Linked DNA regions of Homo sapiens: region 1 is linked to region 2. Evidence: fine-mapped expression QTL. A gene starts in region 2. The other region holds a variant in brackets. All regions are shown on one strand. Distances are from middle to middle.

Region 1 (8,317 bases), 33 kb before region 2:
CATCTCTGCTATCCCCACCGCTCCCCAACTTTGTCCCAGCCCAGGGTGCATCCTGGCAGGGTGGCGAGGAGGCGGGGCATTGAGTCGGGTTGCCAGGAGGGTACCTGATCACTGCCGCCCCACAGTGTGGCTCCGGGTCCGAAGTCCTAGGGATCGAGAGGGATGGATGCATAGATGCTTGGAGCCTCCATATGGGTGGACAAACCCTGGTGTCCAGGACTGACTTTCAATGGATTGCAGCGAGGGAGCTGTTCTGCTGCTTAGGAAACCCAGAGGCAGGTCTTACTAGCATCATTTTCCCCAGGAACCTGCATTTGGTGACGAGTGAGGGGCAGGTGTCTCTTTCTGGCAGTTCCCCTTTTCCCAGGAGGGACTCTACATCCAGATGGACCTAAGCGTAGGAGGAGGATGCTGTGCACGCAGGGTGCACCCCGCTGCCAGGTGAGGGGAATGTCTGGGACGAGATATCCAAGGTCAGTCAAGCCTCCTATGCACCGCTGTATCTTCTGCCTGCCTTAAGGTCATCCCGATGGTAGCTTTGCCTCATTCGTTACTCAGACAAGCAGACACCAAAAGCCTGAGCCTGCAGTTCCTTTGTTAGGGAGCAGGATTGCCATGGCAACAGTACATCTCCTGTAGGAGTCTAAATGTTACAGTGGTCCAAACCCAGCTCAAATGTTCCCTGTCACAGGGACTGGGAGCAAGAGTTGATTCCCTGAATGGATTTCAAAAAGCCAGCTCTTGGGTTCTTGAGAAAACAGCTCTGGGGGGTCACTTTGCATCTCAAAGGGCAAAGGATGTGTAATTGCAACCTTTTTAAAGTAACTATTCTAAGCGAGAGTCCAGGGGCCTATCTGCCTATCACCTGGTTTGGTCTGGAATAAATTTTGGTAGCATGGAGCTTTCTCAGGCAGGCATTTTAAGCGGGACTGGGGTCATGGCCTTAAGCTGCTGGTAGCCAAGCTAGAGTTTGGTCAGGTCTCTTAGTGCAGCGATTTGGATGGAGCCATTATGTGCTGAGAGGTCTGCAGTTTTCTCCCAGCTCCTTCTTTTTCTGCAAATTCAGTCTGAGTTTCCATTTTATTCTGTGGCCCTTTCCCTGCAGCCTCTTCACAGAGAAGTGGCACCACTGAATTTTAAAAAAGATGGTTAATCCTCTTTTAGCTAGTACCTACATTTTGGGGTATTAGAAAGTCTTGTTGTGATGTGCACTGCTCCTGAAACACTGAGCTGAGGAAGCTGTTCGTGATGGTTAATATTAGGTGTCAACTTGATTGCATTGAAGGATGCCTAGATAGCTGGTATTGTTTCTGGGTGTGTCTGTGAGGCTTTTGCCAGAGGAGATTAACATTTGAGTCAATGGATCGGGAGAGAAAGACCCACCCTCAAGCTGGGTAGACACCAGCGAGGGTAGAACAAAGTAGGCGGAAGGTGGGATAAGCTGACTTGCTGAGTCTTCTGGCTTTCATCTTTCTCCCGTGCTGGATGCTTCCTGCCTTTGGACATCAGACTCCAGGTTCTTTGGCCTTTGGACTCTTGGACTTACACCAGTGGTTGGTCATGGGCTCTCGGGCCTTTGGCCACAGACTGAAGGATGCACTGTTGGCCTCCCTGCTTTTGAGGCTTTTGGACTTGGACTGAGCCACTGTGGGCTTCCTTCTTCCTTGGCTCGCAGACGGCCTGCTGTGGAGCTTCACCTTCTGATCATGTCAGCTAATTCTCCTTAACAAACTCCCTTTCATATATACATCTATCCAATAGTTCGGTCCCTCTGAAGAACCCTAATAGTGTTAGAAAACCTAAAGGTGAGAGTGTTTAATTTGGGAGCTTTTAGGTGGCAGCACATCCCATCACTAAAAAAAGGATAGCTTATATATTTGTAATAAACTCATATTACACTAATAAACACTGCAAAACAAGCTAGTTGATATTTTTGAGATCAGATGTCTCTTATTTAAACCATCTTATTGATTTTAATATAGCTATAAAAAGGATCTTTATTTAGAAAAGATTTCTAAGACCTTTTATGCAGAGTAACTGCAAAACTTCTTAGCTCTTTCATTCTTAAATACTCCCTTGAAACAAATTTTATTGATGTTTGTCTTCTGTATAATTTCATGAAGAGCAAAAGGAAAATAAAATTAGCCTAATTAAAAAAAAAAATTAGCCTAATAGCTAATGTTGGCCAGCACTAACTACACTCAAGGCCCTCTCCCAAGCATTTCACGTGGAGCAACATTTCATCCTCCCAATAACCAGCAAGGGGAGGACCACTCAGCTCCGTTTTCAGACAAAGAGCTTGAGGCACACAGAAGTTACCTTGTCCACGGTCACATAGCAAGTAAGGGCAGGGCAAAGCCAGGATGCAAAGCCACACAAGGCCACCTGGCTCCAAAGCCCCTGGGTAGAAACCACTGGGCCACCCTGGCACAGCAGCAGGGACTTCCTGGAGCCAGACAGCAATGGGGAGGCTGCTCTGCCACACCTTGCCTCTCACCTCCACTTCCTGTCCTGGGCTTTTCAGCAGCCCTGAGCACCTCTCCTTCAGGGGACCATCAGTGGGAGAGGTCAGGCTCAAATTCATTTTTACATAAATGTTTTTGGTGTTAAAACTTCCCGAATGAGGCCAGGTATGGTGGCTCATGCCTGTTATACCAACACTTTGGGAGGCTGAGGTGGGATTGCTGGAGGCCAGATGTTTGAGACCCACCTGAGTAACATAGTGAGACCCTGTCTCTACATAAAATTAAAAAAAAATAGCTGAGCATGGTGGTGTATACTTGTAGTCCCAGCTACTTGGGAGGTTGGAGGCAGGAGGATTGCTTGAGGCCAGGAGTTTGAGGCTGCAGTGAGTTATGATCGTGCCACTGCACTCTAACCTGGGTGTAGAGTGAGACCTTGTTTCTAAAAAAGAGATCACCTGAATGAAAACGTCTAATATTATGTTGATATGCAATACCGACCAAAGCCTAACTATGGAAAATAAAATCTTAAGGTCATGGAAGACATATGTCTTTTAAGTAAGTATCTATATTAGTAAAATTCATTACTCAATTCAATTATGCTGGATTTTCCCCCTTGCTATATGCTTAGAAAAGAAGAAAAATGCACCCCTGTTCAAAAACTCATAAGAATTAAATTTTTAAAAACTTCAAATTTTAGGATGATTTTTATTTACAAAACAGATTGGTACTTTTGTTTTACAAAAATTACAAAAAATGACTCTTAAAAATAGAAATAGCTTCTCAGACTCTTGGGAACTACTTTTAAGCAACCAAGGAGTTAGAACTCAGATGGTTTTCTTCTTTGTAACAGCAACAATGACCACGGCTCTGTGCCATGGCAATCACTGCTGAGTGTCTTCTCCTACAATTACACAGGCCCGAGCTGTGTCTGGTGGAAAGGTCTCCACTCAGGTCAGAGTCTGAAGGAGCAAGATCTTCTCATTAATGCAGAACCTGTGCAGAACCACCATCAGATTCTCTCCACAGCGGGAGACCTGGCGCTCCATGGCCAGGCGAAAGTCCTCCTTCACGCCTTTGGTGATGCCTCGAGTTACAGTGTGGTGCCTGAGGTCAGCAATAGGGAAACAGACAAAGACCAGGGGTTAGCACCAGCATCGCTGATCGCTGCTACTTGGGTAGGAATAAAGCCTGCCCCATATCTAAGTATAATTTCAGATATTTTAAAAAGAACACAAGAATAGCTGCAACCAACCAAACATTCCAGCCCATTTCTCTTCAGAAAGACTTAAAACTAGACAGACATCTTTCTCACTCTATAAAAGGTTACTTCAAACATTTAATTGTTCAGTAAAATGCCACCTGCTTTGCCTTTGAATCAATGAAGCTCTGGTGTTATGCATCCCTACTGCTGACTGGTACACAATTCAGTTACTTAGGGCCAAATGGGTCCAGTCCACACTGGCTACAAAGAGCTCATGTCCAGCCCGGCCAGCAGACCCTCCAGAGGCAGCAGCAAGGAGGGAGGAGACCTGAATGAGCCAATCACCCAAGTGAGCTCCCACCATGGCCCCCGCAGCTGGTGCTCCCAGAAAGGTTCAGGGCTCCTGCACAGCCGGGGTCACAAGCACGTCTCTCTCCCCAGGACACCAGAATAGGGCAGCTCCTCTAAATGCTGTGCCCATCTAGACTCTCATATGTTGAAGAAAACGCAGCGGGAGGTGGGGTCCTGACACAAGAATGTGGCACAGGTCAGGAGAGAGAGGCAGAATCTCTGAGGGGCAGAGGGAGTGGACTGCGTGGTCCTGCGCTGTCTGGGCACTCAGGGGAGACCTGCACATGTGTGGAAGGGGTGGTGGGGACACAGGGAAAAATGTCTCTTAACTACACCCCAAAGGTTGTGCTTTAGAAAAAGAAATCACACATGAAATCCCAGGAAACGGAAGAAACAAAATGAAGAAACGAAAAGAAAAATCTAGCAAAAATCAGTCAGCTCAGTTAAGAGGAAGGGAGTTTTACCTACTAGTTCAGCAATTTGGTAGACTTAGACAAATAAAAGTCACCTCTGTTTCCCACCCTGATGCCTAATTTCCCTCACACAAAGTTATAAGGATTGAAAATGAAGATTTTTTTATGTTCTGGGCAAGATAAAAGTGTTAAAATTACTCTAAAATGTTTCTGTTTTTAAAAACTTGTATTAATGATCATATCAAATAAGGACAACAGGAGTCACCAAATTGTAAAACAACAGATGAAAAGAAAAAAAAAATCCAGCTTTGTTAGATAAGTAAAGCTATCACAGAACCTTCTAATGCCCATGGATGTTTTAAAGAACTACAGGGGAAAACAGCAGGGCCGTGGGGTAAATGCACACTTCTTTGTGACTATCTCTCGTCAAATCTGGATGGGTAGCTCAGTAGTTAGGACATAGCATCGGTGAGGTCCCGCTAGGATAGATGCAAACCATTTATGCTGCCCTGAGATACTGCTCTTCTGGGTCCCAGGCTGCAGCCTCAAACTGGAGCTGACCCTCTGACCAAGCGGAGGTTACTGGCACTTGCAGACAGTTAGCTAAAGGGCAAACCCTCCTTTTTTTTTCTTTCTTTCTTT[C/T]TTTTTTTTTTTTTGAGATGGCATCTTGCTATCTTGCTGTGTCACCCAGGCTGAAGTGCAGTGGCAATGATCTCAGCTCACTGCCACCTCTGCCTCCTGGGTTCAAGCAATTCTTGTGCCTCAGCCTCCCGAGTAGCTGGGATTACAGGCATATGCCACCAGGCCTGGCTAATAAACCCTGCTTTTAATACCACTAAAAATATAACTAAATGCTACATCCTGCAGATCAGGGTCCAATTTGTATTATCTCCATATATAAAGAGTGGCACAATTCAATTATATTTCTATTAGAAGCACTATCACTTTGGTAAGTTTGGATGAAAAAGAGAATTAGTAAGCTTTTGTGGTTTAAGAACAGGATAAACCAGCTAATAAATGTGGCATTTTAGCCTATCAAATATTTTCAATTCAGAAAGGTAAGGTCTGAAAAAACATCAGTAGCAGGAAAAAAAACACATTAGTGCCTATTTAGATACCAGGCAACTAATTGCTAATATGACCATAATGACTGGTCACTCATATGAGTATCCACAAATAAAAATGTACTTAAAATAAACGTCAGCATCCTTAAATATATATGACCGAAAGCCTTAACGTTTTATCAAAAGAGAATCATGGTGCACCTAAGCTAATGTGCACTTAATTGAATACAGATTTATATAGCTTTCATTGTTTTTTCCAGATCCATAATGATTTTTAAATCGAACACAAACACACTGGCAACTTATGGAAAAAAAATAAGAAATGTTACAATATTACAACCAGATGGTTTGCCAAAATGCGGAACAAATTAAAAAAGAAAGAAAGCATGAAAAAGAGCACTGAGGAACGAAGAGCTGAGAACCATGGGCAGCGAACATGTTGACAAACAGCACACTATGAGCGGGCGTTGATTCCACTTGGTACCTGTCAGCAGTCTGTATGCTGGGCTGAAGCACAGGTAAGAATTCCTGCTGCAGTAACCCCATGGGAGGGCTAGAAGGCCTTTAAAAAACAGCAAACAGCAGCATTCAAACACCCACACCGACTCACCCTGCACTGCAAAAACAACACTCCAGAGAAAATACACAAGACTAGAAGCAGACTAAACAGAAACTCATTAACCTCAACAAGCCCCTGGCCGTGGCTGGGTGTTTAAGGAGACTGGGGAGAAGCTAGCCAGCCCTCACTGCACCCGCTGCTGCTGGTGCGTGTCCAGAGGCGTCTCAGTTCCTGGTCCCAGAGCTCAGCCCCCTTTTGAGGTGGTATAAAAAGCGACCAGTGAGGAAGAGGATGATGGAATGCAGCTGAATGGCAATAGGGAGTAGGGGCAGCCTTTGAGAAGACACATTTTCAAAGCCAGCCTCTTTACTTTCCACTCTTCTCACGGTACACCAGTCCCAGCATTCAACCTGGTGATGTCTGGTAACCATCTTTAACAGGACTGAAGCCCCACCGGAGAGGCCCTTCCAAGAGGACTAAATGGTCTGGCAATGTTTTTGATTTAAAAAAAGGGTGAGTTTCAATTTCAAAAACGTATTGAGAACAGATGGGGGAAAATAAGAGTCCGGGACCCATGGCTGTGCAGAATTCTGTAACAACAAAGATTTAGTGTATTAGCTGGTGATCACCTCATAGAACATTATTATCCACCCTATTCAGAGTATAAGTAGGACATTGTTTTCCATTTTAATCCACTCTAATACAACTAAGATACTGCATTTATCAGCACAGAAACATTTCTCTATTTTAAAATACTTAAGAGCAAAAGGTCTGTATAACAGATTAAGAGCTTCTCCCTCCTTTGAGTGAAGCACCGGGTGCCCTCAGTGTTGGTACTGTACCTGCTTGCATCCCAGATGCCACAGCTAGGGCAGACTCACAGCCTTACCCCCGGGGAGAAGTGTACACTGCTCACAACATCTCTGCCACTCATCTGGAGGGACCACCCAAAAGGTCTGTAATGGCTTCAGAAAACTTGTTTGGAACCCAAAGGGAAAAGGAATTCAGATTGTTTAATAAAGATTCCAACCATTCCTCAGTTAGGAAGAGCTCTCTGGCTTAAGCAGTGTGCTTTCTACCATGTTAATTTAGGCATAAGTAATTAACCTTGAGATTCACACAGTGAAGACTGGGCAAATCCCTACGAGGTCAGATCACTAAGGAATAATCCCTATTCCTGCTTCCAAACTGATGAAACTGCAGCCTTCCTAAGAGGCTTGTCTTCTATAGAAAGTTAGAAGAAATTAAGGGTTGTATTGATCAAGGTGGGAGACCCTGGAGTTCTCCCTCACTAGTTAGAAGTGCATGATGGGTATCCTTTACACAAACAACTCCAAACACTCTTCCCTGTGATACTAGCTGGTACCCAACACTCCCCTTGCTCTCATTCCTCATCCTAGGGTTTGTCCACTTGGACTTATGTCACTCTTCAGCTCAGTAAAAACTGGTAGAAGAAGAAAGGTTCAGTACAATGAAGTCTGAGGTTCAACTGTTGATTTTTTGACAATCCATCTCTCACACCTGCACTAACAGTTAGGCATTATCTAGGTAAAGTGATAATCATCTGCAGGTTTAATCCTATGTACACAGACTTCGGTTCCACTATGGCTGTCTCTATATTAACTCGTATAGTGACTGCTGATGGGAATTAACTAAAAAGCTTGATTCAGGGTGTATTTGTATATCCAGTTTCAAAGTCTAGAAAACAAATCACAATACAAAAGGGGTTACCTGGGCTTCCGTATCCAAAGGTAATCTTTATCCCCAAACACTGTTAAGAATATTTTGAACAACATAGTTATTCTTCCCAAAGTTTCGATTCACGATCTTAGAAAAGTAAATGGGGATTGGAAGATGCCAGTCCTTGTCCATCCTGCTTAAGCAAACCAATGCAGAAAGGTCTCGTGTATTTTTAAAAAGAGCACTGTTCTTTTATTTTAAAAGTTTATAATTTAATAACACTTATAAGATGAAGGAGAAAAAACCACTTAATCTTTCCATTCTTGAGAATGGAGTCCACAAGACCCTATTCTTGCTAGACACAAAAAGAAATGTTTGCTACCAGCAAACTACTGAGGTTACAGAAATCTAAAATGAACATTTCTTACTTCTTTCCCTAGGCACTTCTAAGACTATCAAGATAGAACAAGATGTGGATTTTTGCTTTCAACCACTGAAAACTAGTTTATTCCACAACTGAGGGAAAAAGAAAAATGTTTTTAGTTTTAGCAGTACTTTCTTCTCATTCAGGATTCAGTCTCTTG
Region 2 (8,311 bases):
CCATTACCAATGCCTTAGCATAGTAGACGGTCCCTTACTCAAATCCACCAAGACACTGGTATCAACTTCCTTGTGACCACACAGGGATGCACCACAGGAGTGGAAAAGTGCGAAAGATTACATCACACAGAAGGTGAAAGGTCAGAGTTATGACCAGAAAGTGTGCTGGGCTGAACAGTGCCCCCCCAAATTCATATCCCCGCAGAACCTCAGAATGTGACCTCATAGACATCTTACCTTTTTTTTTAAAAAAAGTATCTTTGTAGATATAATTAATTAAGATGAGGTCATGGTGGATTAGAAAGGCCCTCAATCCAATGACTAGTGTCCTTATAACATGGCCATGTACACACACCTGTAATCCCAGCTACTCAGGAGGCTGTGGCATGAGAATTGGTAGAACCCAGGAGGCAGAGGATGCAGTGAGCCAAGATCATGCCACTGCACTGCTGCCTGGGCAACGGAGCAAGACTCTGCCTCAAAAAACAACGACAAAAAAGGCCATGTAAAGACAAAGGCACAAAAGAAAGAAGATCATGTGGTGATGGAGCAGAAATTGGAGGAGTGATGAAGCTGCCTGCCAGGGAATGCCAAAGATTGCTGACAACCATCAGAAGCCAGGGAGAGGTAAAGAAAGATTCTTCCCCAGAACCTTCAGAGGGAAAGTGCCTCTGCCAACACCTGACTTTTAGACTTCTAGCTTCCAGAATTGTGGGAGTCCTTCTGTTGTTTTAAGCTACCCAGTTTGTAGTACTTTGTTATGGCAACCCTAGGAGACTAACACAAGCAGGTATGGAAATGATTAACCCGGGCCAGACGCCAGAAAATGGCATGGGAAATAAGCCGCAGAGTATGAACGAATGGAGTGAATGGTTTGAAACCTGACACCTCACTGGCTATGGGAAGTTACTAAAACACAAAATGCTCAGTTTCGTCATCTGTAAAGTGGGATACTATTTACTTCAGGGGATTTAGGAAGATAGGAGATACCTAGCACTTTCCCATGCCTGCCAATAGCACTCGATAATTATTACAGATGAAGGAAAGGGGCAGGAATAGAATGAAAATAGTCTCCATAGGGCAGAAGCACAGGAAAAACGCATCTGTTAAGACTATAAACTCTACGCTAAATTCAAAAGCACATTGTAGAATACAACGGAAAAAGATTACTTTTTACCATATGGATTGCAATAAACAGTACTGTCAGAGCTTGGTGATTTTCCTGATAAAACAGCTTCTCCTGGAAACTTACAAAATATGGTGAAAAGAATGTCCTTTTAGCTTTACTAACAAAGAACCTTCTATTTCAGTTCAATCTTAACCAGTACTCTTCAGAAACTTCTGCTTTGTAGCTCCTCACCATACCGATGAATCTGTTGATGACCCATTGTATTTTATATTAAAAGAAGGGGAAGAATCAAATCTCACCCCATGCTGCACCACCGTTTCAGGGAAGCGCCTCAAAAGTAGAAGCAACATTTCTGATCGTTCTAACGTGTTGAAGCATTGTTCCGTGACCTTTAGTAACATTTCACACTGGACCCGACCAGGAAGAGTTTCAAATAAACCTGTACGAAACATATTTCACTTTTAAAAGTTTCTTGCGGACAGAAAAGACTGCAGCAACAGTGCTGAGTAAGGCATTTTCATGTACAGAACAGTAAACACTACATGTGAAATCAATGCAGTTAAGTTTCACCTACAACCTGGCAGCCTTTTGGAGCCAATAGTATCTGGCACAGGATGTTTGCTGAATAATGGTAAAATATTTGCAAGACTGATCAAATTCAAAAAACAATGATGTATGTGAATGGTCACAAGAATGCCTGTTGCAGGTTGAGATAGAGAGCATGTGCTTGTTGAAGTTCAAATGACCTATGCATCTACTTGCTATTTTATCTAGAGTTTGAAATCTTTGATTGACTACAGCAACATACAGAAGTTTAAAGAGAAAGCTTCTAAATTACTAAAAGCTTCTCTCCTGTTTTGTGGAGAGCTGGTTAATCTATAGCTGCTATCTGGTTATTGTAAAACCTGTTAAAAATATATACAATTAATTCCTCGTCTCACTGATAAATCCATATCCTTTAAAGAAGCTTAAAGGGTTCTAAGCAAGTCAAGGAACCGAGTGACATTATTATAGACTTTGGTTGCCAAGAATAAAACATACATATGGTTACCAATACCCCAGGTGTGACTTTTTTGTGTGTGAAATTACTATATATGATTTGGTATTCCCGAAATGGTAACTTATACACCATTATTCTTACTTCTTAAAAATTGGGTTTGTTTGTCCTGTGAATCGTTCCTTAATGCTGATGTAATAATGCTGATTTCTCTCCACACCACCGGCTGGTCTGGGAAATTCACAAACCTATTTTTAAAATAAATACATTAAATTAAAATGTCAAAGTCTATACAGTATCCAAAAGAAAAAACGTTAGCATTTGGTGAAAAAGTTTCCTTTATTCCAAGTGAATGCTTAGACGTGCCAAAACAAACCAAAATAAAAATGTAAAAATAAGAATTACTTGATTTATAAAAATGAGAGTACTCACATAAGTCTTTAGTGGGTTTTATAGGTGAAAAGACAAGTAACCATAACATAGAAAGAGCTTCTAAAAGTCAACAAGAATAAAACAAACTATTTGAAAGAAAAAATAGGCAAAGGCAAATCACAGAATACACACAGCCAAAGAGAACAGTTGAAACAATACTGAATCTTATTAACAGTATGAGTAGTACAAATTTTTTTTTAAAATAGCAAGATACCATTTTCTCCTATCACAGTGACAAGAACTAAAAAGAGACTAATAATATCCAGTGTTGGGAAGGGTATGGGAAAACACACTCTTTATACACCATTGGTGGTAATGTAGACTGGGATCGCACATTTTGGAGAGTAATTTCATAGCGTATCAAATTTTCAAATGCGCATAAACTTTGACTATGAAAATGTCTTAGAATCTATTCCACAGAAAAACACCAAAATATGACTACAAAATTGTTGACACACTGAATATAATTTCAAATAATTTAAAACTATCTATTTAAATGTCTACCAAGAAGAGAGTGTCTACGAAATACTACACAGGCATGAAAAGGAATGAAGTGGATCTCTACATACTGATATGGGAAGGGGTCCATGAGAGTGAGTAAAGGAAACATGCTGCAGGGCAAAGGTAGTATGGTCTTCTCACTTTTGTAACCCCTTCCCCCCAAAACCTTATTTATGTATTATGCATACATGTATAGATATACTGCCTACAAAACTTAACTCTGGTTCAGTTTAGGATGCACTTTCACTTTTTGTTCTCTATAACAAGTAGTGTTTGAATTTTTGTAATGAGCACATATTATTTCTAGAATAAATTATGAAACAGAAGTTTTAACAAGGATAAAACATAAGAATAATAATTAAACTCTTCTGCAAAAGCCATGTCAGCAATTTATGGCAGGCCTGGACTCCTTACTAGGTTTGCTTTAGGTATCGAAGATATAGATGAACTTGAAGATCTTCCCCCAACTCCCACTTCTGCAGAGAGAAACAAAACCTCATGGAGAGATTCAGTGCAGTAAAAGTGATGTCAAGCGTCCCACTCACATGTCGTACAGCAGCCTCCCGGCGGTGGCGGTCCGCTCTGCATTCCGCTCGATGGTGTACATCTCATACTGCAACACACATCAGGCACCCTGGTCACTCACCCCTGCCCAGAAGGCTCCCAGCTCATCCAGCATCGCTCGTTGGCCCTCCTGCAGGAAGGGAGGGCCTGAGAGTGAAGCTCCGCCTGGTGACACAGCGCCACATACATGGCAGACTTGCCATTGGGCTTAGAGTGTGACCCTGGGGTTCACCTGCAATCTCAGGCTCCCAGGATTAAGTAGGATAATATTTCCAAAGTCGCAGGCCCTGAACAAACTGCTGCCATTATGATGAATGAAGGAGCGAATGGCCTTTTGCTAGTGGCGATCATGTGCTGTCTAGGCCAGATGGCACGCTGAGCCCCAGGGACCTAAGCACACCCGACCTCAAGCGGGATCGGCCGTCTCTCAAGTGCTGGGGAGAGGGCTCCTGGAAGGTGTAGGAGCAAGGCGGGTGAAAGGTGTAGGAGCAAGGTGTAGGATGGGAGGGGAGAGAGGAGGGGGTGGGAGGGGAGAAAGCAGGGGGCCGGGCAGGAGGCGGCAGCCCCCAGGCAGGCGCAGCTCTGGGCCAGGGCAGCCCGGGCGACGGGAGCGCGCACCTCCACGCAGAGCGGCCGCATGCACAGCCGGGACCTCACCTGGATGTTAAAGTCTGCCGGGTAGAGGCTGCGGGCCGTGATCAGCCACGCCTTGGCTGCCCACAGGTCTTGCGGCACCAACTCCCGGGCTCGCTGCACCAGGAACTCGCAGTCCCCCTGGGCAGACATGACCCGAGCGCTCTCCAGCCGCCAGCCCGAAGCGGCCGGAACGTCCGGCTCTGGACTCTCAGCCGCCACGGCAGCCACCGCCGCCGCCGCCGCCACCGCGGGGGAGGCTACTGCGCATGTCTGGAGGCGCACGGAGGCTGGCAGAGTGGATCGGGAAAGCTTTTCCGGGTTTTGCGAGCAGTCTCCTCCCCTTGGCTCCTCGTTACCGCCCGGTCCCCTCCTCTTCTGAGAAGCCAGAGCAGTTGAACCGCTTCCAGGTCACCTCGAAAATGCGGAGAAGTGGATTTTCATTCCTGCGGGCTGCAGCGTGACCTTGGTGAAGTCAGGGAGCATGCGCGGGAGCGGGCAGGCGCCAGGCCTCTTCGCCATTTCCATCCTCTCTGGGTATTGCTCAGTTTGTCGGGGGCGGGGGCGGAGGCGGGGGCGGGGAGACGGGCGGTCCCGGGGAATGGGCGGTCCCTGGGCGTCCCCCCGGCGTGGAAGGTTGAGAAGAAGTTTGAGAGGAACAGCAGAGGGTCGGGGAGGCGGCGGGAAGCACTCTCCACCCGGGCCGGCCTGAAACACCTTCCCCGGGGGCCGCTGCCTGCGACTCACTCCCCGGGCTTCGATTTACGCGAAAACTCCTGGGGCTGGTGGGGGTGATCGTGCAAAGCGTGAGCTCCGGGGTTCCTTCTCTTTCCGAAATCCGTCCACGTTTTATTATTTCACCTTTATGCACCGGTTTCTCCAACAAACGTTTATTGAGCAACGAAGTACTTGGAAAGCGCTTTGGTGGATGCCGTCCGTGGGAGCTGCAAAGATGACTAAAACCCTGACCCAGCAAGGGTTTTATATGTTTTAAATGTTCTGGACGTGAAACCCACAGAAAGATAACTACGCTATTATTATAATTATCTCCTCCAGCCACAATCAATGTCCTTTTCACCAAAACTCCAGATTTGTTTTCCATCTAAGAGATGAAAAACATCTAGGAGATTCTCCATCTAAGAGATTCTCTTGCCTCAGCCTCTCGAGTGGCTGGGATTACAGGCGTCCACCACGACGCGCTAGCCCGGCCAATTTTTGTATTTTTAGTAGAGACGGGGTTTCACCATGTTGGCCAGGCTGGTCTGGAACTCCCGACCCCAGGTGATCCGCCCTCCTTCGCCTCCCAAAAGTGCTGAAATTACAGGCATGAGCCACCGTGCTGGGCTTCGAAGCACTGTTTAATATCTCCTACTTATGCACAGAACAGCATAACTGTATGATTACTTTATGGGCCAGGATTACTCAGTGATACAGTTATTTTGGGTTTGTAGAATAGAAGATGGTAGAAAATTGGATTTAAACGGAGTAGGATAATTTTTATGTTATAAAGTGTACAGCATAAAAGCAGATTGCTAGCTTGAATTGTTAAAATTATTTCATTGATGTTAATATATGAAGTGTAAGAATTTTCAAATGGTAAAAATGACTGATTTGGTCATTAAACTTTCTGGTTTTGGTCTTTACCAAAAATAAAAAAACAACTCCACACTTGTTCCTGAGCCTAGTGTTCTGTGGAATAACAATTGTAAATTAAGATTTTAAATTTAGAGGCTAAATAAGGAAATTCTGTTTTTGTTTGTTTGTTTGTTTTTGAGACACAGTCTTGCTCTGAAATCCAGACTGCCAGTGAGTGCAGCAGCTCGATCATGGATCACTGCAGCCTTGACCTCCCAGGCTCAAGCCATCCTCCTGTCTCAGCCTGTGGAGTAGCTGGGACTACAGGTGTGTGCCACCACATCTGGCTAATTTTAAATTTTTTTGTAGAGACACAGTCTCCCTATGTTGCTCAGGCAGTTCTTGAACTCCTGGGCTCAAGTGATCCTCCTGCTTCAGCCTCCCAAAGTGCTCGGATTACAGGCATGAGCCATTGCGCCCAGCCTCTGTATGTATTTTAGATGCCAACCTTGAGAGGGCCTCTAGACTTTTTGCCAGAATACAACGTAAGGTTTGTGGTTATTTTCTAGTCAGCTTCTTGATTTTGAATGGTCCCCAGCTAAACATTTCTCCTACAGTGTTATGCTGGCATCTCAAAGTACAGAAGGGAGGTAACACACCAAGTGAGTTTACATCTTTTGGCCTCCTTGCCATGATCTTGACTCACTGGAGACTTGAGGCGCCTAGCTCATGTTCTTCTCCATGACAACTTTTTTTTTTTTTTTTTTAAAGACGAGTTTTGCTCTTATTGTCCAGGCTAGAGTGCAGTGGCACAATCTCAGCTCACTGCAACCTCTGCCTTCCGGTTTCGAGTGATTCTACTGCCTCAGCATCCCAAGTCGCTGAGATTACAGGCGCCAGCCACCATGCCCAGCTAATTTTTTTTTTGTATTTTCAGTAGAGACGGGGTTTCACCATGTTGATCACGCTGGTCTTGAACTGCTGACCTCGTGATCCACCCACCTCGGCCTTCCAAAGTGCTGGGATTACAGGTGTGAACCACCACGCCGGCCCTTGACAACTTCTAAGTCACATAAAATGCCCTGCATCCAGCACCCGGCTTCAATTTCCGTGAGCTCAGTTCAGTGATCTGAATTAAACTCTACATTGCTTTTCCCCTTCCACTTCAAAATCTTCAAACTCCAAGTTTCCTCACATAACCTCTTAACTTCCCTGCCCTCAACTCTCTCCTTGGTTCTTTTTAATAATTTCCTCCTTTCCCTTCTCCCTGATTTTACCTTCATGGGCCTCTATCCCCTTGACACCTACATTTTCCCCTAAGTGCATCTGCCACCCTTTGGGCTTATTCCTCTCCCACTCATGCTAAACCCTGTGCTCAGACATTCAATATGTTCATGTCTTTGCCTTCTTATCCTGCCACTGTATCCACTATTTTTTTTTTTTTTTTTGAGACAGAGTCTTGCTCTCTCGTCCAGGCTGGAGTGCTGTGGCGCAATCTCAGCTTACTGCAACCTCCTCATCCTCGGTTCAAGTCATTCTTGTGCCTCAGCCTACCGAGTAGCTGAGATTACAGGCACAAGCCACCACACACGGCTAATTATTGTGTTTTTAGTACAGACAAGTTTTCGCCATGTTGGCCAGGCTGGTCTCAAACTCCTGGCCTCAAGCCATCCACCCTCCTCAGCATCCCAAACTGCTGGCATTACGGGTATGACCCACCGCACCCGGCCCTTAAACTCCAAGTTTGAATACCACAGCCCTATTTATCTTTCAAGACTGTACATCTGGTCATATATGTGTTTTTGTTTTGTTTTGCGTTGTGTTGTTTTTAAACAGTGTCTTTCTCTGTCACTCAGGCTGGAGTGCAGTGGCACGATCATGGCTCACTGCAGCTTCAACTTCCAGGCCCAAGCAATCCTCCCAGCTTAGCCTCCCAAGTAGCTGGGACTACAGGCGTGTGCCACCACACTTGGCTAATTTTTTAATTTTTTGTAGCAATAGGGTCTGATAATATTGCCTAGGTTGGTCTTGAACTCCTAAGCTCAAGCAATCCTCCTGCATAGGCCTCCCAAAGTGATGGGATTACAGGTATGAGCCAGCACAATGGGCCCAGATAAGTATTCTTTTTTTTTTTTTTTTTTTTTTTTTTTTGAGAGGGAGTCTCGCTCTGTCACCCAGGCTGGAGTGCAGTGGCATGACCTCAGCTCACTGCAACCTCTGCCTCCCAGGCTCAAGTGATTCTTCTGGCTCAACCTCCCGAGTATCTGGGACTACAGCCTTGCGCCAACACACCGGGCTAATTTTTGAATTTTAGTAGAGACAGAGTTTCACCATGATGGACAGGCTGCTCTGGAACTGCTGACCTCAAGTGATGCGCTCACCTCAGCCTCCCGAAGTGCTGGGATTACAGGCATGAGCTAACACGCCTGGCCTGTATATGTATTCTTAAAAACCCTTTGATGGTTTATAATTGTGCTTCC

Which allele goes with the higher level. Alleles are on the strand shown, and positions count from the first base shown. SD is a standard deviation of normalised expression in the study named.
For the expression in monocytes after interferon gamma of the gene that starts at base 4,531 in region 2, allele T in region 1 goes with a higher level than allele C (small effect, 0.38 SD a copy in Fairfax 2014).

The links. PIP is the estimated chance that this variant, and not a neighbour inherited with it, causes the effect.
Region 1: its variant is fine-mapped to the expression of INTS10 in monocytes after interferon gamma (Fairfax 2014, PIP 0.95).

Annotation. Positions count from the first base shown.
Region 1 is chr8:19,846,901-19,855,217 of GRCh38, reverse strand. INTS10 (integrator complex subunit 10) reads right to left here. Exons shown (of 17, transcript NM_018142.4): 17 at 3,151-3,569. The coding sequence ends at 3,413. LOC124901901 (a long non-coding RNA gene) reads right to left here and starts at 1,321. Exons shown (of 2, transcript XR_007060843.1): 1 at 105-1,321. The variant C/T (reference allele first, on the strand shown) is at 5,073.
Region 2 is chr8:19,813,636-19,821,946 of GRCh38, reverse strand. INTS10 (integrator complex subunit 10) reads right to left here and starts at 4,531. Exons shown (of 17, transcript NM_018142.4): 1 at 4,281-4,531; 2 at 3,605-3,672; 3 at 2,271-2,374; 4 at 1,429-1,568. The coding sequence starts at 4,409. RefSeq lists enhancers at 3,591-3,680, 3,891-3,980, 4,481-4,540, 4,581-4,660 and silencers at 4,161-4,290, 4,811-4,950.